Linked DNA regions of Homo sapiens: region 1 is linked to region 2. The links come from fine-mapping of genetic effects on gene expression. A gene starts in region 2. The other region holds a variant in brackets. All regions are shown on one strand. Distances are from middle to middle. Region 1 overlaps SCIMP (SLP adaptor and CSK interacting membrane protein). Region 2 holds the start of SCIMP (SLP adaptor and CSK interacting membrane protein).

Region 1 (16,239 bases), 27 kb before region 2:
AAAGAAATACGTTGGTCAATATGAGAGGTTGAGTTTTACAGTTGAAGGGGAAGGGTGCAGCGATATTAATTGGCTGTTTCTGACAGTAGTTTGGCACATAGTTGTATGTACACTCTGCTCCAGTAAAATGAAATGCGACCACAGTCAACGGTTACCTATTTATGCTGGAGGGTGTTTGGCAATCAACTGTTAATTTAAGTGAGATTCCATTCTGCCGCTTAGCCATGGCAGAGCACACACATGTGCACTCAGGGAAAGCAGATGGAATAGGTTATAAACAGAAGCAAACTCCAATTCAGGAGACATGTTCACGCAGAAATAGTACTATGATGCAACATACATCACAAAAACAAATGGAAATTGTGTTTGTTTGTTTTTGAGATACAGTCTTGCTCTTTCGCCAGGCCAGAGTGCAGTGGCACAATCTCAGCTCACTGCAACATCCATCTCCCAGGTTCAAGCGATTCTCCTGCCTCAGCCTCCCGAGTAGCTGGGACTACAGGTGCGCACAACCACGCCAGCTAATTTTTGTATTTTTAGTAGAGACGGGGTTTCATCATCTTGGCCAGGATGGTTTCGATCTCCTGACCTTATGATCCGCCTCAGCCTCCCAAAGTACTGGGATTACAGGCGTGAGCCATGGCGCCCGGCAAGAAATTTTTTTTTAAATCTGTCTTTAGGGGATTATCTAGCTATTAGTGGGGTTAAATGAGGGAACTGTCGCCTCGGCAGAAGAGATGGTCCACTGTATTCATTTGTCATAATAACCAGACTCCTGGAGTTACTGGGTTCTAAAGTTGTTGATACAGCATGAATAGGTTTGGATGTGGAGTTCTGTATGGAGGATCCTTTCAACGGGAAGATAAACCAAAATTGTTGGTCGTAGCCTTTTGGACTACTGACTTAAGAGATTATTTGAATCTCTTTAAAGAGTCAAAATTGGCTGGGCGCGGTGGCTCATGCCTGTAATCTCAGCACTTTGGGAGGCCAGGGCAGGTGGATTGCTTGAGGTCAGGAGCTCAAGACCAGGCTGGCCAACATAGTGAAACCCCATCTCTACTAAAATACAACGATTAGCCAGGTGTGGTGGTGGGCACCTGTAATCCCAGCTACTTGGGAGGCTGAGGCAAGATAATCGCTTGAACCTGGGAGGCGGAGGTTGCAGTGAGCTGAGATCGAGCCACTACACTCTCAGCCTGGGTGACAGAATGAGGCTCTGTCTCACACACAAAATAAGCCTGTATTGTTGTAAATAGATTGTGAAGGGTGATTCTGGTGAGGGCTCAGAAGAAGAGGAGAGCTACAGAGAAAGCCTCAGTTTTCTTAGAGATTACCTAAGAGGTTGTACCAGAAGGCTAGTAGAAGTATGGATGTTAAAGGCCATTCTGATGAGGTCTCAGATGGAAATGAAGAACATGTTATTGGAAACTGGCAGAAAAATGATCCTGATTATCTGGCAAAGAATGTGGCTGAATTGTATGTCCTAGTGTTTTATGGAAGGTAGAAATTCTGAGTGATGAAATAGGATATTCGGTGGAAAAAATATCTGAGTAAAGTGTTGAGAGTGCGGCAAAGCTTCTCTTGAATGCCTGTAGTAAAATGCTAGCAGAGAGAAACCAATTAAAGATGGTCTTTCTTTCTCTTTCTCTCTCTCTCTCTCTTTCTCTCTCTCTCTCTCTTTCTTTCTGAGACAGAGTTTTGCTCTTTTTGCCCAGGCTGGAGTGCAGTGGCGCGATCTTGGCTCACTGCAACCTCCACCTCCTGGGTTCAAGTGATTCTCCTGCCTCAGCCTCCTGAGTAGCTGGGATTACAGGTTTGTGCCACGACGCCTGGCTAATTCTGTATTTTTAGTAGAGACGGGGTTTCACCATGTTAGCCAGGCTGGTCTCGAACTTCTAACCTCAGGCGATGTGCCCTTCTCAGCCTCCCAAAATGCTGGGATGACAGGCATGAGCCACCGCCCCCGGCCAAAGATGTTATTTATGATTTAAAAAGCAGCAGAATTTAAATATTTAGAAATTTACCAACCTGCCCATGTTGTAAAGAATGAAAAAGCTTGTTGAAGAGAAAACACCAAGAATGTGACCAAGGAAACTTTTGATAAGGAGGTTAGTGTGGGGAGATGGAAGCCAGATGCTCAGCATCACAGCGAAGAAGGACCCTGAAACCATTCCGAAGATCTTTAGAGGCTGCCCTGCCCATCACAGGCCCAGAAAACTAGGACCTTGAAGTCAAAGCGATTTCAAGGCTCTGCTCCCTGCATTCTGGTGCAGGGCTCCTGGCATACCCTAGCTGTGACTCAAGTGGGCCCAGCTGTGACTCAGGCCATCCCTCTGGGAGGCATAGACAGTAAAGCATGGTGGTGTCCAAGCAGTTTTATCTCCACAGCTGCGCAAAGTGCATGGGCTGTGAGGGCATTGCTACCTCTACCTAGATTTCAAAGGATTCCTGGGGGAATCTTGAGGCCCAGACGGAGCACCGCCAAAGGGGCAGGGCCACTGCGGAGAGCCCCCACTAGGGCAATGCCCAGCACAGCCATGGGGACGGGGGTGCCTCCAAGACCCCAGAATGTTAGGGCCACCAGCGTGCAACTCCAGCCTGGGAAAGCTGCAGGTCCGAGACTCCAACTCATGAAAGCTGCAGAGTGGGCTGTGCCCAGCAAAGCCATGGGGGGGCCGCCCCGAGTCTTGGAGGCCCAACCCCCATCCCAATATCTGGGGGGTAGGACGTCAAGTCAAACATTATTCTCAAACCTTAAGACTTAATGTTGTTTGCCATGTTGAGTTTCGGACTTACTTGGGACCCATCACCCCTTTCTTCTTTCCTATTTCTCCCTTTTGGAATGGAAATTTCTATCCTATGTCAGTCCCACCATTGTATTTTGGAAGCATACTTACATTGTATAAGTAGTTTGATTTCACAGGCTCATAATTGGAGAGCAATTTGCCTCAGGATGAATCATATCTTGACTTTTGCCCAGACTTGGAATGAGTCAACATTTAGTTGAGATGTTGACTTAGACTTTAAAGCTGTTATTGGAATGAGTTAAGACTTTTAGGGCTATTGGGATGGAATAAATCTATTTTGCATTTGAGAAGGACATGGATTTTGTGAGGTCATGGGCAGAATGCTATGGTCTATGTTTGTGTCCCCACAGAATTCGTATGTTGAAATCTAACCCCCAAGATGATGGTATTAAGAAGCAGGGTGTTTGGGGTGATTAGATCATGAGGGCCCTGCCCTCATGAATGGGATGAATGCCCTTATGAAAGAGGACCCAGGCTGGGTGCGGTGGCTCATACCTGTAATCCCAGCATTTAGGGAGGCTGAGACAAGAGGATTATTTGAGTCCAGGAGTTCAAGACCAGCCTGGGCAACATAGTGAGACTCCATCTTTACCAAAAAAAAGGAAGAAAGAAAGAAAAAAAATAGGCCGGGCGCGGTGACTCATGCCTGTAATCCCAGCATTTTGGGAGGCCGAGGCAGGTGGATCATGAGGTCAGGAGATCAGGACCATCCTGGCTAACATGGTGAAACCCTGTCTCTACTAAAAAAATGCAAAAAAATTATCCAGTTGTGGTGGCAGGTGCCTGTAGTCCCAGCTACTTGGGCGGCTGAAGCAGGAGAATGGTGTGAACCCAGGAGGTGGAGCTTGCAGTGAGCTGAGATCATGCCACTGCACTCCAGACTGGGCGACAGAGCAAGACTCCGTCTCAAAAAAAAAAAAAAAAAAACAGCCAGGTGTGGTGGCATGTGCCTGTAGTTCCAGCTACTCAGGAGGCTGAGGTGAGAGGATCACCTGAACCCAGGAGTTTGAGGCTGCAGTGAGCTATGATTGTGCTGCTGCACTCCAGCCTGGGTGACAAAGTAAGACTCTGTCTCAAAAAATAAAATAATATAAAAGAGGCCCCAGAAAGCTGTCTTCCCCTTCTATCATGTGAAGACACGGTGAGAAGGTGTGAAGCACAGAGTGAGCCCTCACCAAACACCAAATCTGCTGGCGCCTTGATCTTGGACTCCCCAGCCTCCAGAACTCTCAGCAACATTTCTGTTTTTAACAAATTATCCAGTCTAAGGAATTTTGTTATAGTAGACCAAATGGACTAAAACCCTGGGTATGTGGACCACTCCAGGCCAATGAGACATTAGGGAAAGTTGCTGGGGGCTCACCTCCCTAATAAAACGATACAGCCAGGCGCGGTGGCTCACATCTGTAATCCCAGCATGTTGGTAGGCTGAGGCAGGTGGATCATGAGGTCAAGAGATCAAGATCATCCTGGCCAACATGGTGAAACCCTGTCTCTACTAAAAATACAAAAATTAGCTGGGTGTGGTGGTCCCAGCTACTCAGGAGGCTTAGGCAGGAGAATCGCTTGAACCCAGGAGGCAGAGGTTGCAGTGAGCCAAGGTCGCACCACTGCACTCCAGCCTGGTGACAGAATGAGACTCCATCTCAAAAAAAAAAAAAAAAAAGATACATGTTAGTAATGCACATTTTCTTTCTAACTTTGAATGTTATCATGTACAGATGCTTGGAGCTGTGGCAGCTATTTTGCCACCATGAGGATAAGGCTAAGCAATTTGAAATTAGTCCACACCCCTAAATTATGGAGCTGCTGAATTCTGGAGTGTTTACCTCTAGACTTCTTGCTTTGTGAAATTATAAACTCCTCATTGTGTAAGTTATCTTTAGTTGGATAGTCTGTTCTTTGCAGCCTAAAGCATCCTATCGAATACACATGATTTGTAAAATTTGTTGTTGGTAATACCAGTGCATTTCCTGAAAACAATCTTGTTTGTATTGCAAAGAAGATCAGATAGTAATTATTATAAGGAAAACTATAATCCACTGATTTGTGGTATGAGTAAAGCATCAGTTCTTTTTTTTTTTTCAAGACAGAGTCACTCTATCGCCCAGGCTGGGGCACAGTGGTGCGATTTCGGCTCACTGCAACCTCCACCTTCCAGCTTCAAGTGATTCTCCTGTCTCAGCTTCCTGAGTAGCTGGGATTACAGGCGCCCGCCACCATGCCCAGCTAATTTTAGTATTTTTAGTAGAGATGGGGTTTCACTATGTTGGCCAGGCTAGTCTCAAACTCCTGACCTCAAGTGATCCGCCTGCCTTGGCCTCCTAAAGTGCTGAGATTACAGGCATGAGCCACCGCACCTGGCCAAGCATCAGTTCTTAAAACAGTTAAGGTGGCAGAACAGGAGTTCTTTCAAAATGATGATTTTCAGTATTTGTGGGTATTTCAACATCATCATAGTCATCTTCAGGTTCAATATAGCTCAGGATGGAAACTATCTCCTTATTTCTTTTTTTTTTTTTTTTGAGACAGAGTCTCACTGTTGCCCAGGCTGGAGTGCAATGTCATGATCTTGGCTCATTGCAACTCTGCCTCCCAGATTCAAGCAATTCTCCTGCCTCAGCTTCCCAAGTAGCTGGAATTACAGGTGCCCGCCACCATGCCCGGCTAATTTTTTGTATTGTTAGTAGACACGGGGTTTCACCATCTTGGCCAGGCTGGTCTCGAACTCCTGACCCCCGGTGATCCACCTGCCTCGGCCTCCCAAAGTGCTGGGATTCCAGGCGTGAGTCACTGCGCCCAGCCCTTATTTCTAACTTTATTTATTGATGAGTATGTATTCAATAGGTAACTTGGGGATTCCTGTGGTGCTGGACTATACAAAAAGATCCTATTAAATCTTGATATATTTAAATCTCATCCAAACTGGTAACAATTTCCCTAGTAGAAAACTTGGCTTTATTATACGTTCCCAGTATAAAATCTCAGCCAAATTACACATGTCCAGAGGAAAAAAAATTGTTTTGTCAAACCAATTGGTAGATTTTCCATGAATGTTCAACAGTCAATAAATATTGCCTACCATGTGCCAGGTTTTGTGCTGGACATTGGGAATACAGCACTGAGACAATTTCCATCCCAAAGGAGCCCCCAGATTAGAAAGGAGGATGGAAAGTAACCAGGTAATTATAATTATAATATATAATAATTATAATACAAAGGGAGAAGTATTTCCATAGGGCCAAGTATGGGAGCTGTGAGAGCTCAGAGTTCATTGATTCATTCATTCAACCCAGTTGATTATTCAACATATTTATTGAGCATCTACAATGTACCTGGGCACTGTGCTAGGAACAGGGAAAACAGTAGAGGAAAGAAGGACACATTCCCTGCCCTCATGTTGCTTTGGGTCTAGTGGAGGAGAGAGACAGATAAGCAATAATTATAACATGCTAATGCTATGAAAGGAGAGCATCCAGGAGGCACCAACCCAAGTTGGGTCATGAGGAAAGGGTAGCCAAGATGAAATGGGAAGGATCCAAAGGTGGGGAAGAATGTTTCATACAGAGGAATAGCGCTGTGCACAGGGCAAGAGGGACCATAGTGAAGGTCATTTTATTTTATTATTATTATT[T/A]TTTTTTTGAGATGGAGTCTTGCTCTGTCACCCAGGCTAGAGTGCAGTGGTGCAACCTAGGCTCACTGCAACCTCTGCCTCCCAGGTTCAGGTGATTCTCCTGCCTCAGCCTCCCGAGTAGCTGGGATTACAGGCATGTGCCACCACACCCGGCTGCGTTTTGTATTTTTAGTAGAGACGGGGTTTCACCATCTTGGCTAGGCTGGTCTCAAACTCCTGACCTCATGATTCACCCACCTCGGCCTCCCAAAGTGCTGGGATTACAGGTGTGAGCCACTGCGCCCGGCCTGTGAAGGTCATTTTAAGTGGCTGGAGCAAAAAACTTGGGCAGAGTGGAGGTTGCAAGGGGGTTGGGGGAGAAGAGTTTGGCAAAAGATAATCAGTGACCAGATCCTGACAAATCTTGTAAGCCATGTTAAAGAGTTTGGTCTTTTTCTGGGGTTAACGGGCAAAGAGAAGATTTAAGCAAAGGAATGAAGTGGTCAGATGTTCACTTTAGGAAGTCACTGGGTGCCATGTAGAAAGTGGACGGCAGGTGAGGTGCCAGAGGCAGGGGAGCAGTCAGGGGGCTGTTGATATTCTCCTGGCAAGCGCTGGCAATTGTCTGACCTCAGAACAGTGACGGAGAGACGTGGACTCATTGGAGAACCACGTGGGAGGCACAAGTAACATGGGGAGCTCTGGAAACAAAGCAGTGTGGGGAGAAGGATACTAGTTTCTGACTTCAGCAACTAAGAAGATAGTAGAGCACAAGACATTTGGGACTGGAGGTAGGTCATCAGTTCCTTTTGGTGTTTGCTGAACTTGAGGGGGTGTGTGGGGCAGTCACAACGAGATGTCTTAGAGGCAACCCAGCTGGGGAGAAAGAGCTCAGCTGAAGTCAGAATAGAGGGGGCAGCTGGGCGTGGTGGCTCACACTTGTAATCCCAGCACTTTGGGAGGCTGAGGCAAGCGGATCACTTGAGGTCAGGAGTTCAAGACCAGCCTGGCCAGCATGGTGAAACCCCGTCTCTACTAAAAACAAACAGAAAATTAGCCGGGTGCAGGCGTGTTGGCACACACCTGTAATCCCAGCTACTCAGGAGGCTGAGGCAGGAGAATCGCTTGAACTTGGGAGGGGGAGGTTGCAGTGAGCTGAGATTGTGCCACTACACTCCAGCGTGAGTGACAGAATGAGACTCAGTCTCAAAAAAAAAAAAAAGGAGGGGCCCACTGAGCTCATGGACATTGGTGAGATCACTCGTGAGTGTTGGAGGCAGATGGGCAGAGACACAGGGACAGAACCTGAGGAAGACCAGCATTGAAGAGATGCTTCAGAAAGAGTGGGTGGCCCCAAAATGAGACGGAGACAGGAGGAGAACCAGGAGAGGGTGGCGTCCCAGAAACCAAGGAAGAATCAACATTTGTCTGGCATTTGTTTTTAACTTTTGTCATAGTCATGGAGGGTTTACAGAACATTTATAAGACGAAAGCATGTGTTTGAAACACTCCAATCCTTTGGCTTATTTTTGTTCTATAATTTGGGAAGAGTCCTCTCTTTGGCTGGTGGGATACCAGAGTCCCATAAGGCCATAGTTAGATAACTACTGGCCTAACATAAGGAGGGTTTATTTATTTATTTATTTATTTATTTTTAGATGGAGTTTCACTCTTGTTGTCCAGGCTGGAGTGCAATGGCATGTTCTCGGCTCACCGCAACCTCCGCCTCCCAGTTTCAAGCGATTCTTCTGCCTCAGCCTCCCAAGTAGCTGGGATTACAGGCATGCGCGACCATGCCTGACTAATTTTGTATTTTTAGTAGAAATGGGGTTTCTCCATGTTGGTCAGGCTGGTCTCGAACTCCCGACCTCAGGTGATCCGCCCACCTTGGCCTCCCAAGGAGGTATTAATAGCAAGGTGGAAGCCTTCATAGAGTCTGGAAAGAGAGAACCAGGGAGGAAGCCCAGGTCCCCAGTGCTCCAGCGTTGATTGAGGGAGAAAGCTTGAAAATGGGAGGAACACATTTTCCCATCTCTTGAGGGAAATCTGAGTCACTCTCAGGCCTTTCCAGGTTCACAGTGCTCTCTCTGCAAGGCTGTTCATTTGCCAGATTTCCCAGAGGTCACTTAGAAACCAGCATCTTGTGAGTATAGTTAGAATGAGTCAAGTCCTAGGGCTCTGGCGATCAGCTAGAAGGAATTGATGAGGTCTAAGAGCCTATAAAGCTGACTCGGGCCTTGTTGACCCCATTAGGACACTTGTTTAACAAGACATCTGCCCATGTCCCTGGCCCATCTCATTGGCTGCAGCACATCACAGTGGACCTTCTGCCTCCTCCCAGATGCCCAGGGACAGTGATCTGGAAGGAAGGGGCTTGAGGCTGTTTTCCTAGAACTCGAGTAAGTACTGATGAAAATGATGGACAGGGGATATTAAGCCCCCTGAACTCTCATCTTGTATATGCCATTGTTACATGCCCCTTTTCTTTCCTGTTCCCCATGATTTGTCCTGGGGGAAATGTATTTTTCCTGTAGCACCCCCAACACACCTATTGCAAAATGATGCTTCTAGGTGTAAATCAGAAGGTAACTTTTGTCCTTTGTCCATTGTTACAGTACAACTTGCAAGCACGGGGAGAAAACCTAGGTGAAAACTCAAATCTCTATGGTCAATTTGGCCTACATCATATAAAGGCACTGGGGTTTGCAGGGTGTCTAGGTGGGGAGGGTTCACGAGAACAAAAGGTACTCCCTGCCCTTGCAAACTCGCGAGATGTGGTGTGGGAACCTGGGCACGAGAGCACTCAGCTGTAACTCACCCACAGCCTCACAGTGCAGGAGGTGGGTGGGGTGAGAGGGTAAAGACCAGCATGCTTGGTGAGGGCCTTGCTGGGGATGGGAGCCTGGGAGGGTCTGCACAACCAAATGCTGAGATTTAATATCACTCAGAACCATGCAAACCAAAGGGAATGAAGGGGGAAAGAATGCCAAGAAATGAGTAGTTTCCCACAGGTGGGAGCCATGGAGCCCCGTGGTCCTTCCCATGGAAAGTTTCCTCAACAGCACAAGGCTGACCCCTCTAAGTCCTCAGAGCCGAGCACCCATGTGTCTCCTCTGGCTGCAGTCATCCGATCGCAGGGGTGTCTTCATCTAAGGTTTGGGAAGTGCTTTATCTTATAGAGCTTCATAAAATCACCACTGGCTTTCAGGGCCCAGAGACCTACTGAAGTTCAACCATTCTTGATTGTTTTAAAATAAGTTGTGTGAACCCTCTTCAGTTTTGCCAAAAAGAAGAAATGGCTGTTTCAAAATGATGCTTTTTCAGTATTTGCAGGGATTTCAACATCGTCATAGTCATCTTCAGGCTCAATGTAGCTTGGGATGGAAACAGTCTTCTTATTTTTAACTTTATTTACCAGTGAGTATGTAGCGGGCGGCTGACTTGGGGCTTCCTGTGGGGCTAGAATACACAAAAAGCTCCTTAGATGCAAAGCTGTCATGTGTTTTTATATTTTTGAAGGCAGTGGCTCAGCGTGATTTTCACGTTTCAGTGATCTTCCCACTTCTAGTGGGCCAGATCCCCATTTTACAGAGGAAATTTAGACACAGACCTGACAGAGCCTCAGGATCACCCAAGTGAGTAACTGGAAAATATTAGTCAGACATCTTGACTCCCGTATCTTTCTGCCTAAGCCTGCACTGCATGGAAACCATGAAGCAAAAGCTTAGAAAAGAAACAGACCAGGTCAGGTGCAGAAGCTCACACCTGTAGTCCCAGTACTCTGGGAGGCCCAGGTGGGAGGATCACTTGAGCCCAGGAGTTCCAGACCAGCTTGGGCAACACAGGGAGACCCTCGTCCCTACAGAAAAATTTAAAAATTAGCCGGATGTGGTGGTGCATGCCTATAGTCCCAGCTAATTGGGAGGCTGAGGCAAGAGGATTTCCTGAGCCCAGGAGGTTAAGGCTACAACGAGCCATGATCACGCCACTGCACTTCAGCCTGGACAACATGGTAAGACCCTGTCTCCAAAAAAAAAAAAAGAATGGATGAAAAGAAACAGACCAGAGCCCAGTAGTCATATGAGTGCTGTTGTGTTACAGATCCTAATTTTTACAAGGAAGTGAAACAAATCATATTTCCTTTTTGGCACATCCCTTCCAGTGACTTACACTGTTTTCCAGGACTCTCTGTAATTGCTTATGTACAAATCTCTCTAAGAAGAAAGGGGATGGCGTTGTTTTCAAAAGGTGGAATTAGTACAGAACAGGTTCATAGGAGGCTGGGGCGCGGTGGCTTATGCCTGTAATCCCAGCACTTTGGGAGGCTGAAGTGGGCAGATCACCTGAGGTCGGGAGTTCGAGACCAGCCTGATGAAACTCTGTCTCTACAAAAATACAAAAATTAGCTGGGCGTGATGGCGGGTGCCTATAATCCCAGCAACTCGGGAGGTTGAGACAGGAGAATTGCTTGAACCCAGGTGGCAGAGGTTGCAGTGAGCCAAGATTGCACCATTGCACTCTAGCCTGGGCAACAGAGCGAGACTCTGTCTCAAAAAAAAAGAAAGAAAGAAAGAAAAAGAAACAAAAAACAAACAAAAAGAACAGGTCCATAAGTAATAGAAGGATGATGAAACAGCTCAGCTCCATCTTTGATGGGGATTGGAACTGCCTCTCCCACAATCTCATCTTTTCCTAAGAAAACCTGAAATGCCACTATTTGCAGAACTCTGCAGTTTGACAGACCAGAGTTCATGTTCACGTTCCAGCAGTCATTAGCTGTGTGACTATAGGTAAGTCACTTATCTGTGCCTGAGCATCCTCATCTGTCACAGAGGAATAAAAATGTACCTGGCTTGGGCCGGGCGCGGTGGCTCACGCCTGTAATCCCAGCACTTTGGGAGGCTGAGGTGGGTGGATCACGAGGTCAGGAGATCGAGATCATCCTTGCTAACATGGTGAAACCCCATCTCTACTAAAAATACAAAAAATTAGCCAGGCATGGTGGCAGGCACCTGTAGTCCCAGCTACCCAGGAGGCTGAGGCAGGACAATGGCATGAACTCGGGAGGTGGAGCTTGCAGTGAGCCGAGATTGCGCCACTGCACTCCAGCCTGGGCGACAGACCGAGACTCCATCTCAAAAAACAAACAAACAAAAAAATGTACCTGGCTTGTAGAGTTGTGAGGAGTGAATGAGCTAATACCTGTAAAGTGCTTAGTGTGGGACCTGAAACACAGCGCATGCTCAATAAATGTTAGCTAATATTATTTATCTATCCAATCAAAATATTTTTCTTAAGTATCGACTGAGCCTCACGCCCTGTTCTAGGTAGTGGATAAATATTAATAGTGGTGGACAAAAAAGGTTCCTGTGTTCCTGAAGTTTATACTCCAGTGGAGGAGATCAATAATACATAAATGAACAATAAGTAAATAACACAATTTTGGATAACTGTCAGTTTCATAAAGGAAATTAGCAGAACTACTTTAGGTTGAGTGGACAGAGAGGGCCTCTTTGAGGTGGTAACTTCTGAGCTGACATCTGAAGGATGAGGAAAATCCAGCGAGGCAAAGAGCTTAAGGAAGAACATTCCAGTCAAAGGAACCAGGCAGAGTTTTTCTGATAGGAAGTGAAAGGCCTAGTGACACCCCATGTTTCTTTCTGTTTATGTTCCAAGCTGGGATTTGAACATGAATTTACACCCTTATATCAGGCTATTGGGTGCGTCGGTACTTATGCTGCCCCCTTTTTGCTTTTCCATCCCTTTTTTTTTTTTTTTTGAGACAGGGTCTCACTCTGTCGTCCAGGTGCAGTGATGCTATCGTGGCTCACTGCAGACCTCCCAGGCTCAAGCGATCCCCCCACCTCAGCCTTCCAAGTAGCTGGGACTATAAGTGTGCACCATCACGCTGGCTAATTTTTGTAAAGATAGGATTTTGCCATGTTGCCCAGGCTGTTCTCAGACTCCTGAGCTCAAGTCATCAGCCCGCCCTGGCCTTCCAAAGTGTTGGTATTACAAGCATATGCCACTGTGCCTGGCCTCTGGCTATCTCTTTTAAACAGGATGCTGGCTGTGTGTGGTGGCTCATGCCTGTAATCCCAGCACCTTGGGAGGTCGAGGCGGGTGGATCACTTGAGGTCAGGAGTTCAAGACGAGCCTGGTCAATATGGTGAAACCCCGTCTCTACTAAACATACAAAAAATTAGCTGAGTGTGGTGGTGCACGCCTATAATCCCAGTTACTCAGGAGGCTGAGGCAGGAAAATAGCTTGGACCTAGGAAGTGGAGATTGCAGTGAGCTGAAATCATGCCACTGCACTCCAGCCTGGGTGAGAAACCAAGACTCTGCCTCAAAAATAAAATAATCAGGATGCTGCATCTATAAATCCTAGTGTTACAGACTGAATGTTTGTGTCCCCCCAAAATTCAGGTGTTCAAGCCTTAACCCCCAGTGAGGCTATATGTGGCCATAGGGATGAGGCCTTGATCCAACAGGATCAGTGTCCTTGTAAGAAGAAACACCAGAAATCTGACTCCCTGATGCTCTTCCCCAGCTTGAATGCACCAAGGAAAGGCCATTTGTGGGGACATAGCAAGAAGGCAGCTGTCTGCAAGCCAGGAGGAGAACCCTCACCAGAAACCTCACAGAAATCGGCCAACACCCTCATCTCGGGCTTCCAGCTTCAGAACAACGAGAAAACAAATTTCTGTTGTGTAAGCACCCCAGTCTATGGTATTTTTGTTACAGCAGCCTGAGCTATCTAAGACACCTTCATAGGGGACGGGCGTGGTGTCTCACACCTGTAATCCCAGCACTTCGGGAGGCCGAGGTGGACAGATCATGAGGTCAGGAAATTTAGACCATCCTGGCTAACATGGTGAAACCCCGTCTCTACTAAAAATACAAAAAATTAGCCAGGCGTGGTGGTGGGCACCTGTAGTCCCAGCTACTCAGGAGGCTGAGGTGGGAGAATGGTGTGAACCTGGGAGGCGGAGCTTGCAGTGAGTGGAGATCGCGCCACTGCACTCCAGCCTGGGGGACAGAGCGAGACTCCATCTCAAAAACAAAAAAAAGTGGCTCACGCTTATAATCCCAGCACTTTGGGAGGCCGAGGCCGGTGGATCACGAGGTCAGGAGATCGAGACCATCCTGGCTAACGCGGTGAAACTCCTTCTCTACTAAAAATACAAAAAATTAGCTGGGCGTGGTGGCGGGTGCCTGTAGTCCCAGCTACTCCGGAGGCTGAGGTAGGAGAATGGCATGAACCCGGGAGGCGGAGCTTGCAGTGAGCCGAGATCGTGCCATTGCACTCCAGCCTGGGTGACAGAGCAAGACTCCATCTAAAAAAAAAAAAAAAAAAAAAAAAGACACCTTGATAAACTCGTTATCTTACCCTAAATGAAACTGCTACCAGTAAAATATACTTACAAGAGTCTTCTAGAGAAGGCCAATTCCTCGGTGGCAGAGGCGGTAATTGAACTGGCGACTCATTAAGAACATTCCTAGAGAGAGAGAAAGAGAGAGAATCAGTGTTTGGTTTGGGCCATGCCTGCTCCCAGCCGATTTAAGAGAAAACATCAAGGAAAGTGAATGGGTTGAACATTCAAATCTTGGTCTCTACTAATTGGAAGCATTTCCTTTCCTTTGTAGGTCCTGGTTCCCATTTGTAATTGGCACCCTAATGAAACCGTTTTCTGTAGCCCTGGAAATGGCTGAAAATGAGGGGAGGGAAATAAAGTGCTATAATTCAGAGCATGGAGCACACCTTCCTGGTTCACCTGAGCTGGATTCGGAGAGGTAGGCACCAGATGTATTTCTATTTGCAAAACAGATGAGCCGGGCATGGTGGCGCATGCCTGTAATCCCAGCACTTTGGGAGGCCGAGGCAGGCGGATCACCTGAGGTCAGGAGTTCAAGACCAGCCTGGCCAATATGGTGAAACCCTGTCTCTACTTAAAAATACAAAAATCAGCTGGGCATGATGATGCTCACCTGTAATCCCACCTATTCGGGAGGCTGAGGCAGGGGAATCACTTGAACTTCGGAGGCGGAGGTTGCAGTGAGCCGAGATCATGCTACTGCACTCCAGCCTAGGCAACAGAGTGAGACTCTGTCTCAAAACAAACAAATAAAAAAACAAAAAACAAAAGCAGATGAACTCCTAAAGCAGAATGTACACACACCTTGAGTCAGCATTTCCACTACTGGGTCTACAGACTATTGAAATGCTCGCATCTGTTCACCAAAACATGCATTAGAATGTTCAGAGCAACACTATTCATAACAGCTCTGAATTGGACACGACCTGTATTAGTCTGGGTTGTCCAGAGAAGCACAGACACATAAAATTTGCCATCACACAACTCAAATGTCCATCAGCAGTAGAATGGATAGATTAATTATGGTAAAGTGACTGGGCAAGGTGGCTGACATTGGTAATCCCAGCACTTTGGGAGGCGAAAGAGGGAGGATGGCTTGAGCCCAGGGGTTTAAGGGTAATATAGGGAGACCCTGGGCAACACAGGGAGACCCAGTCTCTACAAAAAAATCAACATAATTAGCAGGTTGTGGTGGCATACACCTGTAGTCCCAGCTACTCAGGAGACTGAAGCAAGAGGATCACTTGAGCCCAAAATTTGAGGTGACAGTGAGCTATGATTGCACCACTGTACTCCAACCTGGTTGAGAGTGAGACCTTGTCTCAAAATAAATAAATAAATAAATAAATACTGGTGTACTCCCACGGTGGAATGTTCTATAGCAACAAGAATGAACAATCTACAACTACACACAATGAATCTCATAAAAATGATGTTGAGCAAAAAAGCCAAACACCAAATAATATATACTATATGATGCCATTAATAGATTGCATAAAAACCAAAAAGCTGCTGGGCACGGTGGCTCATGCCTGTAATTCCAGCACTTTGGGAGGCCAAGGCAGGCAGATCATGAGGTCAGGAGATCGAGACTAGCCTGGCCAACATGATGAAACCCAGTCTCTACTAAAAATACAAAAATTAGCCAGGTGTGGTGGCGCATGCCTATAATCCCAGCTACTCAGGAGGCTGAGGCAGAAGAATTGCTTGAATCTGGGAGGCGGAGGTTACAGAGAGCCAAGATCGCGCCACTGCACTCCAGCCTGGGCAACAGAGTGAGACTCCATCTCAAAAACAAAAAAACAAAAAACAAAAAAAACCCAAAAAGCTAATTTATACTATCACAGACAGTGATTGCCTTTGGGATGTAATGGTTGAAAGGCTGTATAAAGTCAGCCTCTGAAGTGCTGGTAACGTCCTATTTCTTGATCTGGGTGCCAGTGACCTGGGTCTGTTGAGTTCGTGGAAATTCATCAGGTTGCACACTCAGTATTTCCATTTTCCTGTATTTATATGATACTTTGGTACAAAGTTTTAACTAAAAGATAAACTCTAAGAAAACTTCCTTACTTGGGCCTCCATCCCCCTAGGTACACTGATTTGACTCCTATATGCTATAAAGTCCCCCTGAGAATGAATAAACATTTTTAGGTTGTTAGGTTGAGTGCAGACGGGGACATGGGGGTAGAGCTCCACCGGCGGCTCTCACCATCCCTCTGTAGCTCTTCCTAAGAGAAGAAAGCAACTCATCTGACTGCTAAATTTGGGAAAAGTCTAGCTCCTCTCACTTTCTCCTCCAGAGCTGGCCTGACTGCAGAATTCACAAATCCTGCTCTGGTCTTTGCCATTCAGAAAAAGGGGTCTACTCGGTGGGGGAGACCTGAGGTTTTCCGGAGCTGCCTGTGAACTGGTTAGGAAAGTCACCCGGTTCCAAATTAGG
Region 2 (16,239 bases):
GCAAAGTCAACAGTGTGGGGGTTGAGGTGGGAGGGGTCCGGCTTGAGCAGAGCAGTGCAATAGCACGCACCAACTCCTCCACCTTCCAGCCCAGTCCCCATCCCCCATTCCCATGGCGCTTTCTTCACAATTTTAGTTGGTGGAGCCTCTCTCGTGAGGCCATCCTTTCTCCTTGCCTACCGCATCCCAAGAAGAACTCAGCTACGTGAAGGGATGTCACTACCCCCTGCAATATGTATATGTGAAATATGTTGGGCGCGGTGGCTCATGCCTGTAATCCCAGCACTTTGGGAGGCCGAGGCAGGCAGATCATGAGGTCAGGAGTTCAAGACCAGCCTGGCCAACATGGTGAAACCCCGTCTCTACTAAAATACAAAAATTAGCCAGGCATGGTGGTGTGCACCTGTAATCTCAGCTACTTGGGAGGCTGAGGCAGGAGAATTGCTTGACACTGGGAGGCGGAGGTTGTGGTGAGCCGAGATCACGCCACTGCACTCCAGCCTGGGCAACAGAGCTAGACTCCTTCTCCAAACAAAATTTTAAAAATGAAAAATAAGTTGGGCATGGTGGCACGCGCCTGTGGCCCCAGCTACATGGGAGGTTGAAGTGGGAGGATTGTTGGAGCCCAGGAAGTTGAGGCTGTAGTGAGCTGCAGTCACGCCACTGCACTGCAGCCTGGGTGACAGAGCCAAATCTTGTCTCAAAAAAAAAAAAAATGCATTGAGCACAGTGGCTCACACCTGTAATCTCAACAGTTTTGGAGGCTGAGGCAGGAGGATCACTGAAGGCCAGGAGTTAGCAACCAGCCTGGGCAACACAGCAAGACCTTGTCTCTACAAAAAAAATTAAAAATTTGCCAGGCAAGGTGGTGCATGCCTATAGTCCCAGCTACTCAAGAAGCTTAGGTGAGAGGATTGCTTGAGCCCAGGGATTCGAGGCTACATTGGGCCATGAATGTGCCACTGCACTCCAGCCTGAGTGACAGAGTAAGACCCTGTCTCAAAAAAAAAAGAAAAAACAGTGAAATGCATTTTTCTTCCAACTGAGCCTGTGACAGTGACAGTTGTCTCTTGGTGTATTTGTTCTTTTTATTTGTTTGTTCCTTGTCTGTCTCCCACACTGATGGGCAAGCAGCATAAGAGCAGAGGCTTTGCCTGTAATTACCACTGTGTTTCTAGCGCCTAGAACATCACCTGGGGCAGGACATACCATACATATCTGTGAATATACGAAAGAATGGATGATGCCCCAGTCTCTTTCCCCTGCTATAGATGGACCTCCCACCCGAGAATGCAGGCAGAAGTCACTTTGGGTCCAGTAACTGAAATTACTGTGCTGTGCAGTCTAATTCCAAAGCCTCATCTGGACACGCGACCCTGGGCAGGCTCCCCGTCCTGCGCTGGCCATTGGCTACTGGGGCCAAGAGGCTGGCTGGGAAGCAGTGGCAATCCAATGCTGGGGAGGTGGAGTTCCAGCTTCCCCTTTGTTTCTCCCCATTCCTCTAGTTGTCCATGACATTTTCAAGGAACATGAGTGAGCCTGTTGCAGTTCTGGGTGGTTTCAGTGGAAAGGATTTGGCAAGACCTTCCACAGTGAAGAGGGCGTGTGAGTGGGAGAGCAACTGAAGGCAGTCAACACATCAGCTTCACTTTCATTTCTCCAAAGGGCATTTCCAGGGTGTCAGGGACAGAAATCACATTTTCCTTCACCAGGAATTTCTGAGACTGTGGGTTTATTTAGCTTTTTTTTTTTTTTTTTTTTTTTTTTTGAGACAGAGTCTTGCTCTGTTGCCCAGGCTGGAGTGCAGTGGCGCGACCTTGGCTCACTGCAACCTCCATCTCCCCGGTTCAAGCAATTCTCCTGTCTTAGCCTCCCAAGTAGCTGGGACTACAGTCGCACGCCACCATGCCCGGCTAATTTTTATATTTTTAGTAGAGATGGCGTTTCACACCATATTGGTCAGGCTGGTCTTGAACTCCTGACTTCAGGTGATCCACCCGCCTTGGCCTCCCAAAGTGCTGGGATTACAGGCATGAGCCACTGCGTCCGGCGTATTTAGCATTTTTAAAAGAAGATCTTCAGTAAGAAATATGGTTTACGTTGTGATAGTTATTCACGTATTCACATAAATGAAGCGCTGAAGGGCCCTAGGCTGGCCATCAAGGGAACAAGTTCCCCTCCCCTCCCCTTCCCCCATCTCCTTTCTCCCCTCTTCTCCTTTCTCCTCTCTGCTCCTCTCCTCTCCACTCCTCTCCTCTCCGGTCCTCTCCTCTCTCCTTTCTCCTCTCCTCTTCTCTCCTTTCTTCTCTCCTCTCCTTTTTCTCCTCTCCTTTCCCTTCTTTTCCTTTTTGTAGAGACAAAAAAATGTTGTAGACACACAAAAAATGTTGCCTAGGCTGGTTTCAAACTCTGGGCCCCAAGTGATCCTCCGCCCCAGCCTCCCAAAGTACCAGGATTACAGGCATGAGCCACTGCACCTGGCCAGAGGGAATAGGTTTCCTGTTCCCACTTAGCTGTTGCACTTGGAATAAGATGCTTAACGTCTCCTTGCAGGCTTCTGAAAAGCTTCCAAGAGATGTTGCATGCAAAAGAGCTCTGTGTGCAGAAGATCACCAAGCATGAGGCATTATTAAGGGCAAACCAACCAAGTTCTATTTACAATAGCAAGTGTCTTCTAAGAAGGGCAGCTACCGACCAGGAGAGTCCCCTATTCTCCCTGCAGAGGATCTGCAGATCTGCAAAGCTGGCTGGGTTAGGAATGAAGTTTGCTGGTAGGAACTGGGGAATGTTGAATTCCTCTGGGTTATAGAAGGGGAGAATTTGGAGTTCTGGGAGGGAAGGTGATGAGAAGAAGGGATGGAAAGATGAAAAGGGAAGCCAGCAGGATGGTGCAAAGGTGGGAGTGAACCCGAGGGCTAGATTAGGCCTGCAGAACTTAACCTACCTTACTTGATTTTAGTCACTTGCTTCTAGTTGATCTTAAAACCTATATAGCTACTGGGGGCAGTGGCTCACACTTGTAATCCCAGCACTTTGGGAGGCCGAGGCTGGAGGATCACTTGAGCCCAGGAGTTCAAGACCAGCCTAGGCAACACAGCGAGACTTTCTCTCTACTGAAAATAAAAACAAAACAAAACAAAACAAAACAAAACCAGATGTGGCGGCATGTGCCTGTAGTCCCAGATACTCAGGAGGCTGAGGTGGGAGGATGGCTTGACTCTAGGAGATTGAGGCTGCAGTGAGCTGTGATTACCATCAGTGCACTCTAGCCTGGGTTATAGAGTGAGACCCTGTCTTTAAAAAAGAAAAAAGCCTATAGAGCTAAAAGTCATGTAGCTAAGCAATATTTAACTGGACTTCCACTAGCTTCCTGCTGGATAACATCTCTGACATATAGGTCATCATAGTAATGGTTGTTTAAGTTGTTTTTCAAGGGCTGGGCACGGTGGCTCACGCCTGTAATCCCAGCACTTTGGGAGGCCAAGGTAGGCAGATCACCTGAAGTCAGGAGTTCGAGACCAGCCTGGCCAAGATGGTGAAACCCCGTCTCTACTAAAAATACAGAAATTAGCCTGGTGTGGTGGCAGGCGCCTGTAATCCCAGCCACTCGGAAGGCTGAGGGAGAATCATTTGAACCCAGGAGGTAGAGGTTGCAGTGAGCCTCCAGGATCACGCCATTGCACTCCAGCCTGAGTGACGAGAGTGAAACTCCATCTCAAAAAAAAAAAAAGAAAAGAAAAAAAGTTGTTTTTCAGGAACTTGGGGTCAGCTCTTATCCAGTTCAAGCCACTTATGACCATCAATCCTTCAACTTGGTCTGTGTGAGTGTCCAGTAGGTGACGTTTGATGTCAGAGCGCCAAAAACTCCATCTTCCATCATGCTAATGCCACCATTTTGTGAACCTGCATCCTATGAAGAACGATGAAGCTTGACTAGGCTTGCACAGATTGCCGATGTCCTACTTTTCCCTCCAATCACCTTCCCCACACCTTAGGCCACCTGCTTCTTTGTCCCATAAACGTCTCTAAACCCCATCTTCGAGGAAGTGGGTTTGAGACCTGTTTTCCCATCTCCTCACTTGGCTGCCTCATGAATAAATGCATTCTGTGCTGCAAAACTGGTCATCTTGGCGGGACGCGGTGGCTCACGCCTGTAATCCCAGCACTTTGGGAGGCTGAGGCGGGCGGATCACGAGGTCAGGAGATCAAGACCATCCTGGCTAACACAATGAAACCCTGTCTCTACTTAAAAAATACAAAAAATTAGCCAGGCATGGTGGCAGGCGCCTGTAGTCCCAGCTACTCGGGAGGCTGAGGCAGGAGAATGGCGTGAACCCGGGAGGCGGAGCTTGCAGTGAGCCGAGATTGCGCCACTGCACTCCAGCCTGGGCGACAGAGCGAGACTCCGTCTCAAAAACAAAAAAAAAAAACTGGTCACCTCAGTGATTGGCTTACTGTGCGATGAGCAGAATGGGCCTCATTTGGTATCAAGAGGAGGAGCTGATAGAAAATGCTCAGGGATGGGCTGGCAAAGACATTTTCAGAGCAGCGCCGTGTTATGTTCTGTGTGCAGTTGTTTGCGCTGATGCGTTACAAGCCCCTCTGGTGGTCCCCCGCTGAGTCTTTGGTAAAGTCTGCTGCATCTGCCAATTCTTTTGTGAGCAGATTTGTTCTAGGGGTGTGGGGGACTAAGAAAGGGGTGGAATATAAACAGTGCAGTGTAAACAGTGCAGTATAAACAGTGCAGTATAAACAGTATAAACAGTGCAAACAGTGCAGTGTAAACAGCGCAGTGTAAACAGTTTTACCCACAGAGGCTGCAGGCCCATTGCTGACCATGGAAAAAGAGGTGGGCTCCTCGGGAGTCCACAGAAGTCCTGGGGAGGGCTTTGGACTTCGGCAGGCCTGGAATGAGGGTTCGAACTAATCTCAGTCTAGATCTCGAGGGTCTGAGAGGCTGTAGAGAACATTTAGGCCGGTTGGCATGAGCAGTTCTTGCCCCAGTTCACCTCTAATTCCCCGACTGTTGCTGTTCATGCTAAGTGAGGCCTTGTTCCCACTCGTTCTTCTTCTTTTTTTTTTTTTGAGATGGCGTCTTGCTCTGTCACCCAGGCTAGACTCCACTGGTGCAATCTCAGCTCACTGCAACCTCTACTTCCTGGTTCAAGCTATTCTCCTGTGTCAGCCTCCTGAGTAGCTGGGATTACCGACACGCACCACCATACCCGGCTAATTTTTGTGTATTTTTAGTAGAGATGGGGTTTTGCCATGTTGGCCTGGCTGGTCTCAAACTCCTGACCTCAAGTGATCCACCTGCCTCGGCCTCCCAAAGTGCTGGGATTACAGGCGTGAGCCACTGAGCCTCGCTCCACTTGTCCTTCTCACTGATGTCAGCACCAGAAATGGCCATGTGGATAGTCACTGGCAACTTAAAACCCAAGTGTGCATGGGGAAGTGCACGGCAGGGTCATTAAAAGGAGTCCAGCCTCTCTTCTTCCCTTCTCTATACTTTCACTTCTGGAAAAGACCGGAAACCTTGCCTCATTCCTCTTTCTCCCATGGCCCCATCCCCACCCCGCTTCAGCCCATCAGCCTCCAAATGTAGTCCAAGTCCTCATCTCTGTACCTGGACCATTGCATTTTCGCTGGCCCCTAGCCCCCACTGGGCTCCCCACTGGCTGCCAAATACCAGTGTGACCCTGTCCCTTCCTTGCTTTAAGCCTCTCAGTAGTTTGTTTGTTTGTTTTTGAGATGGAGTCTTGCTCTGTCACCAGGCTGGAGTGCAGTGACATAATCTTGGCTCACTGCAACCTCCACCTCCCGGGCTCAAACGATTCTCCTGCCTCAGCTTCCCGAGTAGCTGGGGCTATAGGCGCCCACCACCATGCCCAGCTAATTTTTGTATTTGTAGTAGAGACAGGGTTTCACCATGTTGGCCAGGCTGGTCTTGATCTCTTGACCTTGTGATCTGCCCACCTTGGCCTCCCAAAGTGCTGGGATTAGAGGCGTGAGCCACCATGCCCCGCCTGCCTCTCAGTAGTTATTTACCACTGAAGCAGAGTGAAGCCTGTGCTCCACATTGCTTCATGGCCAAGACCTCAGGGACAAGTGGACACACCAGGCAGTGGGAGTGGATATGGCAAAGCCAAACCCAGATCTCTTCTCAAAATAATTTTCCAGAGGGCAAAAGCAGATGGCTACACCGAGAACTCACGCCAGCCCAACACACTTTGATCTCGAGGCCTCTGGAAGGGAAGGTGCCTAATGAACTACTGAAAGCCAGAGATGCAATGACAAAGGTACCAAGACTGGAGGTGATCCAGGTCTTTCATCCAAGAGCCCCAAGACGTAGCCTAAATTCATGCTACGGTAATCCCAGCACTTTGGGAGGCCGAGGCGGGCGGATCACCTGAGGTCAGGAGTTCGAGAGCAGCCTGGCCAACATGGTGAAACTCCGTCTCTACTAAAAATACAGAAATTAGCCAGGTGTGGTGGCGGGTGCCTGTAATCCCAGCTACTCAGGAGGCTGAGGCAGGAGAATCGCTTGAACCCGGGAGGCGGTGGTTGCAGTGAGCCGAGATCACGTCACTGCACTCCAGCCTGGGCGACAAGAGCGAAACTCCATCTCAAAATAAAATAAAAATAAATAAATTGACACAGTCAGTGCCTCGCTCCCACCCCCACCTCCAGCATAGCACCATGACAGTCTTCTCACATAACAAGTCCCAAAACACACCATCGGCATCCAGAAAGTGAGAGTAACTCGTTACAGTTGAGACCTCTCACTCCCGGTCATTATCTCATTTCAATCCAAGAGGTAGACTTCTTCATCGCCCCTGACATACACATGAGGAAAAGGCCCAGAGAGGTGAAGTGATGCCTCAGGTCACTCAGCCAGTTACCAGTAGAGCAGATCCTTCAATGCAAGTTTTTCTCCAACCCTACACAGCAGTCGTACCAGGGCCCCAGGCTGCAATCCCCTGGCCCAGTGCTGATCGGTGGCTCCCAGGGACACGCCCTGATGCCAGCGCTGGCAGATGTCTGCTGTGAAGAGAGCAGGAAACTGTCCCTTGGAAAGCTGAGATGCTTACCTGAACTGTGAAAGTATCCATATGTGAGCAGCTAAGGAGACAGCAGTGGCTGGAGTGCTGCAGCTCAGGCACAGCTGGTGAGAGGCATTCCTCACTCACAGGCCTTCACCCACTGCTAGAGACAGTGAGCCCCATCCTGACCACTTCCCCTTTCTAGTCAGCCCACGGGGCAGAGACCCTGGCGTCATCTCTAGGCAACCATCCCTTTTCCAGGGAAGCTCATGACCCACGGCTGTCCAGAAGCCAGAATCTTCTCACTGCCCCGTGTCGCTCCCGCAAGGCCTACCAGAGGACCCTCATGGTGTGGTAGGGGGTCCTGGCAGGGGCCAGGGGCCAGGGTGGAGACTTGGCAGTGGGGGTGGGTTTGGTGTCCCCACAGACGAGTTTGCCGTGAGCATTCCTGGATGTGGCAACCTCAGTCTCAAGAAGAGCGACAGGACGCCAGCTCCCATGCAGAGACAGATCCAGGTAAGAAACCAGCTCATGTGTGACAAACTCACCATCTCACCATGAAGGTGACTCTTGAAAGCTCCTGTGCACCTTGGAACTGCTGAGACATCTTCTGCTTGGAGGAGGCAAGGGACAGGCTTCCTGTTTCTAAAGGCGTGTGAGTGGCGACCTTGAGAAATGTGGCCAGTGGAGCATTTTGACTGAGTTGGGTCCCCTCGTGCAATACTGTGAGACAGAACTCCCAGCGAGGCCCACGGCCTCTGACCATGGGGGTTGGAGTGGGGAAACCAATTAGCCATTTTGTTGAATTGGCTGGTTCTGACTCAAATGAGCAGTCACATTAGTAAAAATAGGCAAACGGATGTGCATTGTATTTGCCCAGAGCGAATGAGTTGTTATCCATTTCAGTAATAATGATAACCAGATATGTCTGATAAATATCTGATAATGTCTGATATATGTCTGGTAAATTTAACAAACACCGGGCTCTGGCTGGGTGCGGTGGCTCACACCTGTAATCCCAGCACTTTGGGAGGCCAAGGCGGGTGGATCACCTGAAGTCAGTAGTTCGAGACCAGCCTGGCCAACATGGTGAAACCCCATCTCTACTAAAAATACAAAAATTAGCTGGGCATTTTGGTGTGAACCGGTAGTCCCAGCTACTCAGGAGGCTGAGGCGGGAGAATTGCTTGGACCCGCGAGGTGGAGGTTGCAGTGAGCCAAGATCACACCATTGCGCTCCAGCCTGGGCAACAGAGCAAGACTCTATCTCAAACAAACAAAACAAAACATCTGGCTCAGAAGATTCCTGATTTGCAGTGTTTACTAATTTCTTTTTTCTTTTTCTTTCTTTCTTTCTTTTTTTTTTTTTTTTTTGAGATGCAGTCTCACTCTGTCGCCAGGCTGGAGTGCAGTGGCTCAATCTCAGCACACTGCAACCTCCGACTCCCAGGTTCAAGCAATTCTCCTGCCTCAGCCTCCCAAGTAGCTGGGACTACAGGTGTGTGCCACCGCATCCGGCTAATCTTTGTATTTTTAGTAGAGACAGGGTTTCACCATGTTGGCCAGGCTGGTCTCGAACTCCTGACCTCAAGTGATCCACCTGCCTCGGCCTCCCAAAGTGCTGGGATTACAGAGTTGAGCCACTGCACCTGGCCAAGGCCTGAACTCTTTCTTCTTAGGCTCATCCAAAGTTTAGCTGCTAAAAAACCTTCCTAAAAGCCAATTTAAAATTTTCTTCTAGGCCGGGCACAGTGGCTCACGCCTGAAATCCCAGCACTTTGGGAGGCCAAGGCAGGCGGATCATGAGGTCAGGCGTTTGAGACCAGCCTGGCCAACATGGTGAAATCCCGTCTCTACTAAAAATACAAAAATTAGCCAGGCATGGTGGCAGGTGCCTGTAGTCCCAGCTACTTGGGAGGCTGAGGCAGAAGAATCGCTTGAACCTGGGAGGCGGAGGTTGCAGTGAGCCGAGATCGAGCCACTGCACTCCAGCCGGGGTGACAGAGCAACACTCCGTCTCAAAAAAAAAAAAAAAAAAAATTCTCTTCTGAGGGGTGAATAAATGCTTCTGTGGATAGAGCTCATCCTAGGCTAACAAAGCTGTGACTTCTTGGTTTGTGTTTCATTCATTCATTCAATAAATTACTCAATAAATTATTTTGCTAACCTTTAAGGACCTCAGTTCAGCTGTGATATAGTAAACTCTGTAGCCCTACTATTTCTAACAATGCCTTTTGCACAGCAAGTTCAAGCCTGAGGTGTCAGGTGATCAGAATTCCAGGCCCGGTTTGACAAAACTTTCTTTGTGAATCCTTCCCTTCTCTGAGCCTCAGTTTCCTTGTTGTAAAATGAAAGAATTCAATTGACAAATATGAAAGTGCTCCAGGGATTTTGCCATCTGCCTTCAAGAAAGTCCCGCAAAGTGTAGGAGGAAGTTGAAGCCATAATATGATGCAGGCTAAATACAATGACCTTCAATTTGTGCCAGACCCTGTGCTCAACAAGTAGAGACTCAGAACTGGGCAAGTCATTCATGGGTAGAGCACATGGCACATGTTCTACAGGACAGAAGGCACATAAGTTATTACTATGCAAAGTGATGAATGCTAGTGCTGTGGAAGCACAAAAGTGGGAGAGAAGAAAGGGTCTGAGTGGTAGCATTTGAACTGGGCCTTGAAGGATGTGTAGGAGCTCACCAAATGGACAGAATGTGGACAGACACAAAGCAGCCATAGTATTTGGAGAGAAAGAGATGGTTGCATGGCTGATCAAGAGTGAATGTGTTGGGCAGTCAGAGGCTTGAGAGCAAAGTTTAGGGACACACACCACGGCATCTGGATCTACCCACTTCCTTGCTATCTACATTCTTCCCCGACTCCACCATTTGTCTTTCCACCACAAGAGGAGGGCAGGAAGTTGGGGCGGTTGTGTTCTTTCTGCACATCTGAAATGCCACCTGCTGGTCTGGGCAACTAAAGAGGTCCCTGAGGGCCCTAGATTAGCGGCTGGACCAGAGGGTGTCAAGGAGAATGAAGGGCACCCTCTAGTGGTCACCTGTGGTGCTTTCTCCTCAGGATTCTGGTCCCTCTGACCTCCCCGTAGGGATGGCTGGACACACAAGATGTTCACCTCTTAAAGCTACAGAGACCATCAGGCTAGAGGACACTCAGAAGGGATTCCAGTCCACCCTTCATCTCATGACTCAACCTTTTTGTCAACATCCGGGTGGCACCCAGCTTCTGCCGTTTTGTTTCTTCTCACTCAGTCATCTAAGTCATGTGTAAAATGAGGTGTTATTCTTTGTGCCACTCACAAGTGTCAATTAATCCCCATCATGAGAAAAAAACTGAAGAAAGAGAAATCATAAGATACAACATATAATTAGAACATTAATAGATTTTATTGCAGTTTTTAAAAAGGTGGGGGTTTTTGTTTGTTTTTGTTTTTGTTTTTGAGACAGAGTTTCGCCCTTATTGCCCAGACTGGAGTGCAATGGCGCGATCTTGGCTCACTGCAACCTCCACCTCCTGGGTTCAAGCAATTCTCCTGCCTCAGCCTCCAGAGTAGCTGGGATTACAGGCATGCGCCACCATGCCCTGCTAATTTCGTACTTTTAGTAGAGATGGGGTTTCTCCATGTTGGTTAGGTGGCTGGTCTTGAACTCCTAACATCAGGTGATCTGTCCACTTCAGCCTCCCAAAGTCCTGGGATTACAGGCATCAGCCACCACTCCGGGCACAATAACTCATCTTTAAAGAGCTCTGAGAGCAATATGGGTGGCCAAAGCACTCAGGTGGAACCAGAAGTCATCACTAAGCAACCGTGGCTGCTTTGTTTGTCCCTAACAATAGCCAAGCAGATGTTGTAGCTCCTCTGTCTCCCACCCTGGCCCCATGACATTGAGGTGGGGTCGTTCCAGCTCAGATGTAAAAAGGCAAGTGTATAAGTATTTGGGGTTGTGGCAGGAGGCAGCCGTGTCTTGTGTATGAAGGGAGTCCCTGCCCACTTCTCCCCATTTCTGGAGGTAAAGATTCCCATGAAAGGTACTAGGAGCATTGGGCCCCTAAACCCCAGAACCCATGAGTATGTTATTTTAGATGGTGAAAGGGATTTTGCAGATATGACTAAGGATTTTGAAGTGGGGAAGTCATGCAGGATTATCGACATGGACCCCATGTAATCACAAGATCCTTCTGAGAGGGATACAGGAGAGTCAGGGTCAGTGGCAGGGGATGTGCTGGCAGAGGCAAGAGACTGGGGAGATCCGAAGAAGGGGTCTCGAGCCAAGAAATGCAGGCAGTCTCAAGGAGCTGGTAATGGCTGGGCAATGGATTTTCCCCTGGGACAGGGATGGAGAGACAGCAGTGATTTCAGTTCTCACTCTTGAACCTTCTCTCTTCTTCGTTCCCAAACATGAGTCCACCAGCCCCATTACCACTCAACTGACTGGGAGCCACATCAACCATAACTCTTATGATTTACCAGTTGTAATACTTAAGCATTTTCTGTGGCCTGGCAATTTATTTATTTATTCATTTATTTTTGAGACGGTCTCACCCTGTCACTCAGGCTGGAGTGCAGTGGTGCAGTCGTGGCCCAACGCAGCCTCGAACTCCTGGGCTCAAGCGATCCTCTCACCTAAGCCTCCCAAGTAGCTGGGACCATAGGCATGCACCACCACACCTGGCTAATTTTTAAATTTTTTGTAGAGATGGGGGTCTCGCTATGTTTCCCAAGCTGGTCTCAAACTCCTGGCCTCAAGAGATTTTACCGCCTCGGCCTCCCGAAATGCTGGGATTACAGACATGAGCCACTGTGCCTGGCCTGGCAATTTAACCCAACTCAGTCATCTCTCCTCTGGACACTCTCCCCATGACATACTTTGCAATGGTTTTAAAATATGCTCATACATTTTTTTGACACTCCTCCCATTGAGCTGTGGGAATCTATGTCCCCTCTACTCAAAAGTGGGCTGACGTTAGTGACTCACTTATAACACTGACTGTAGGGGAAGGAAAGCTGCTTAACTTTTGAGGATAAAAAATTATGCAGCTTTGGGCGGGACGCGGTGGCTCACGCCTGTAATTCCAGCACTTTGGGAGGCCGAGGCGGGTGGATCATGAGGTCACGAGTTCAAGACCAACCTGGCCAGTGGAAGGTCCCCTGAATGGGCTACCCCATGGTCGAGCCATTGTGACCCCTGTGACCCACACGTTACAGGCCTCCTGGAGTCACAAAGCCTGGAGCAACAGGAGAACCACTAAAGAAGACGGAACAGCTAGTTCCTGCCTTAATGATTAACCGACCTTGCAACAGTCCACCTTGTGATATGTTCCTGCCCTTCCCCAACTAATCCATCCACCTTGTGATATGTTCCTGCCCTTCCCCAACTAATCCATCCACCTTGTGATATGTTCCTGCCCTTCCCCAACTAATCCATCCACCATTGTGACATGTTCCTGCCCTTCCCCAACTAATCCATCCACCATTGTGACATGTTCCTGCCCTTCCCCAACTAATCCATCCACCTTGTGATATGTTCCTGCCCTTCCCCAACTAATCCATCCACCTTGTGATTGTTCCTGCCCTTCCCCAACTAATCCATCCACCACTGTGATATGTTCCTGCCCTACCCTAACTAATCCATCCACCTTGTGATATGTTCCTGCCCTTCCCCCAACTAATCCATCCACCACTGTGATATGTTCCTGCCCTTCCCCAACTAATCCATCCACCTTGTGATATGTTCCTGCCCTTCCCCAACTAATCCATCCACCACTGTGATATGTTCCTGCCCTTCCCCAACTAATCCATCCACCTTGTGATATGTTCCTTCCCTACCCTAACTAATCCATCCACCTTGTGATATGTTCCTGCCCTTCCCCAACTAATCCATCCACCTTGTGGCATGTTCCTGCCCTTCCTCAACTAATCCATCCACCACTGTGACATGTTCCTGCCCTACCCTAACTAATCCATCCACCTTGTGATATGTTCCTGCCCTTCCCCAACTAATCCATCCACCTTGTGGCATGTTCCTGCCCTTCCTCAACTAATCCATCCACCACTGTGACATGTTCCTGCCCTACCCTAACTAATCCATCCACCTTGTGATATGTTCCTGCCCTTCCCCAACTAATCCATCCACCATTGTGACATGTTCCTGCCCTTCCCCAACTAATCCATCCACCATTGTGACATGTTCCTGCCCTTCCCCAACTAATCCATCCACCTTGTGATATGTTCCTGCCCTTCCCCAACTAATCCATCCACCTTGTGATTGTTCCTGCCCTTCCCCAACTAATCCATCCACCTTGTGACATGTTCCTGCCCTACCCTAACTAATCCATCCACCTTGTGACATGTTCCTGCCCTACCCTAACTAATCCATCCACCACTGTGACATGTTCCTGCCCTACCCTAACTAATCCATCCACCTTGTGATATGTTCCTTCCCTACCCTAACTAATCCATCCACCTTGTGATATGTTCCTGCCCTTCCCCAACTAATCCATCCACCACTGTGACATGTTCCTGCCCTACCCTAACTAATCCATCCACCTTGTGATATGTTCCTTCCCTACCCTAATTAATCCATCCACCTTGTGATATGTTCCTGCCCTTCCCCAACTAATCCATCCACCTTGTGATATCGTGCCTTATGACTTCCCCCACCTTGTGACTATGCACCTTGTAACATTCTTCCCCTGCCCAAAAAAACTGCCCCTAACTGTAACTTTCCACTACCTACCCCAAACCTATAGAACCAGTTCCACTCCCACCACCCTTCGCTGACTCCTTTCTCTGACTCAGCCCACTTGCACCCAAGTGAATAAACAGCCTTGTTGCTCCACTAAGCCTGCTCAGGTGGTCTCTTATACGGAGGCGTGTAACAGCCAAGATGGTGAAACACTGTCTCTACTAAAAATACAAAAATTAGCCGGGCGCTGTGGCGGGCACCTGTAATCCCAGCTACTCGGGAGGCTGAGGCAGGGGAATCGCTTGAACCCAGGGGTGGAGGTTTCAGTGAGCCGAGATCAGGCCACTGCACTCCAGCCTGGGCAACAGAGTGAGACTCCATCTCAAAGAAAAAAAAAATTATGAAGTTTCCAGTTCGTCCTCTTAAGATTCCCACTCAGTGGGAGGGGGAAGCCAGCTACCACATAAGAAGTCCAGCTACTCTGAGACCCCGCCATGCTGGAGAAGCCATGCAGAGCCCTGGGTTGGCAGCCCCAGCTGAGCTACCTGGACACAACCCATGCCAGCCATGTGAGTGAGCCATCTTGGACGTCCAGCCCTGTGGGGCCTTCAGATGACATCTGAGCAGCTGCTAGGGAAACACTGAGTGAGACCTGCCAGGCTCAGTCCTGTCTAAATTCCTGGCCCACAAAATCATGAGCAAACCAAGTGGCTATTTTAAGTCAACAAGATTTGCAGTAACTTGTTACACATCCGTAGTGGCTGGAACAACTTTTTCTCTACCCTCTTGCCCCACTTCCACGCCTCCAGGGGCAAAGCATAACGCCCATTTTGCTGCAAACAGCGTGCCTGGTCGGCCTCTCTATCACAGCTGAGTGCACACCTGTTATCTTGCCTTCCCAGGACTTCACTCCCTCTTCGGTGAATAGCAATCCTTTCTTTTGAGGAAATGTCCCCCCACTGCCCACCCTCTTTATCAATCACATTGCTTTCGGTCAGAGCTGCCACTTTCCTGTTTTCATTCCCCACTGCCACATGGGAATGCAGGTGGCCTCTAGGAGGTGAAGAAGGCAGGGAAATAGGTTCTTCCCCAGAGCCTGCAGAAAGAACCTGCCTGCCAATACATTTCAGACTGCTGAACTTTAGCACCTCCAGATCTGTAAGAGAATATCAAACGTGTGATATTTTGCTACAGCAGAAACAGGAAGTGAATACACCCTTCAACACCTGCAGGATCCTCCCAGTACTTTTTTTTTTTTTTTTTTTTTTTTGAGACAGAGGCTCACTCTGTTGCCCAGGCTGGAGTGCAGTGGTGCAATCTTGGCTCACTGCAACCTCCCCATCCCGGGTTCAAGCGATTCTCCTGCCTCAGCCTCCCAAGTATCTGGGACTACAGGTGTGAGCCACCATGCCTGGCTAATTTTTGTAGTTTTTAGTAGAGACAGGATATCACCATGTTGGCCAGGCTGGTCTCGAACTCCTGACCTCAGGTGATCCGCTTGCCTCGGCCTCTCAAAGTGCTGGGATTACAGGTGTGAGCCACCATGCCCGGTCTCAGTACTTTTTTGTTTATGTCTAAGTCAGTTCCAGGAAGGCTGCCACCATTTGCTACCAAAACAATCCTTACACAACAATAGCAAGTCTCCTTCCATCTCCTCTATTCTGGTCCTTGAAACCTTATCAATGGTGAGGTCACAGTCATTGTTTGTTGTTCGGTTGAGAACTGAGGGGGTGGGGTAGGAGGAAGAAGGTCTATTTTTAAAAATCACACACACTAAAAAAGGTTCAGGCTCTGAGAACCTGTGAAATCTTGACTAATTTTGGCTTTCCCCATGGGAACCCACCAGAAAAGTATTCAAACTTGTATAGAACACCCTTGACGTAACTAACTCCATCTTAGAAAAATACTCCATTTTATATTTCATACAGCACTTTGCCAATTAGGATAAGATGTTTTGCTTAAGAAACAAATTTAAAAAAAAAAGACTGCATCCAACCAGATAAAGATACAAACAAGCACACTCTTCCACCATCAGTTCTCATCAGAGGACTCTGTAACTATAAAACATCAGGCCTTGGCTGGCTGGGTGCAATGGCTCATGCCTGTAATCCTAGCACTCTGGGAGGCCGAGGCAGGTGGATCACAAGGTCAGGAGTTGGAGACCAGCCTGACCAACATAGTGAAACCCCATCTCTACTAAAAATACAAAAATTAGCCGGGCATGGTGGCGTTCGCCTGTAGTTCCAGCTACTTGGGAGGCTGAGGCAGGAGAATTGCTTGAACCCGGGAAGCGGAGGTTGCAGTGAGCCAAGATCATGCCACTGCACTCCAGCCTAGGTGACAGAGCAAGACTCCATCTCAAAGAAAAAGAAAAAGAAAAAGAAAAAAAAGCAGGCCTCTAGCAGCTTGAAATAGCCATAACTCATCATCATCACTCATGATAAGAACTCAGCATTTGGCTGGGCGAGGTGGCTCATGCCTGTAATCCCAGCATTT

Evidence for each region.
Region 1: its variant is fine-mapped to the expression of SCIMP in whole blood (TOPMed, PIP above 0.99).

Annotation. Positions count from the first base shown.
Region 1 is chr17:5,201,077-5,217,315 of GRCh38, forward strand. SCIMP (SLP adaptor and CSK interacting membrane protein) reads right to left here. Exons shown (of 5, transcript NM_207103.3): 4 at 13,849-13,922; 5 at 7,844-9,879. The coding sequence ends at 9,725. ZNF594-DT (ZNF594 divergent transcript) reads left to right here. Exons shown (of 6, transcript NR_152840.1): 2 at 8,674-8,819; 3 at 12,974-13,133; 4 at 14,071-14,217. Among named protein-coding and RNA genes, the nearest start is that of ZNF594-DT, 17 kb to the left of the region's middle. RefSeq lists a silencer at 7,353-7,532. The variant T/A (reference allele first, on the strand shown) is at 6,442.
Region 2 is chr17:5,227,644-5,243,882 of GRCh38, forward strand. It overlaps SCIMP (SLP adaptor and CSK interacting membrane protein), which reads right to left and starts at 7,217. Exons shown (of 5, transcript NM_207103.3): 1 at 7,092-7,217. The coding sequence starts at 7,112. It overlaps ZNF594-DT (ZNF594 divergent transcript), which reads left to right. Exons shown (of 6, transcript NR_152840.1): 6 at 7,471-8,360. RefSeq lists enhancers at 7,459-7,658, 9,604-9,903, 14,138-14,367.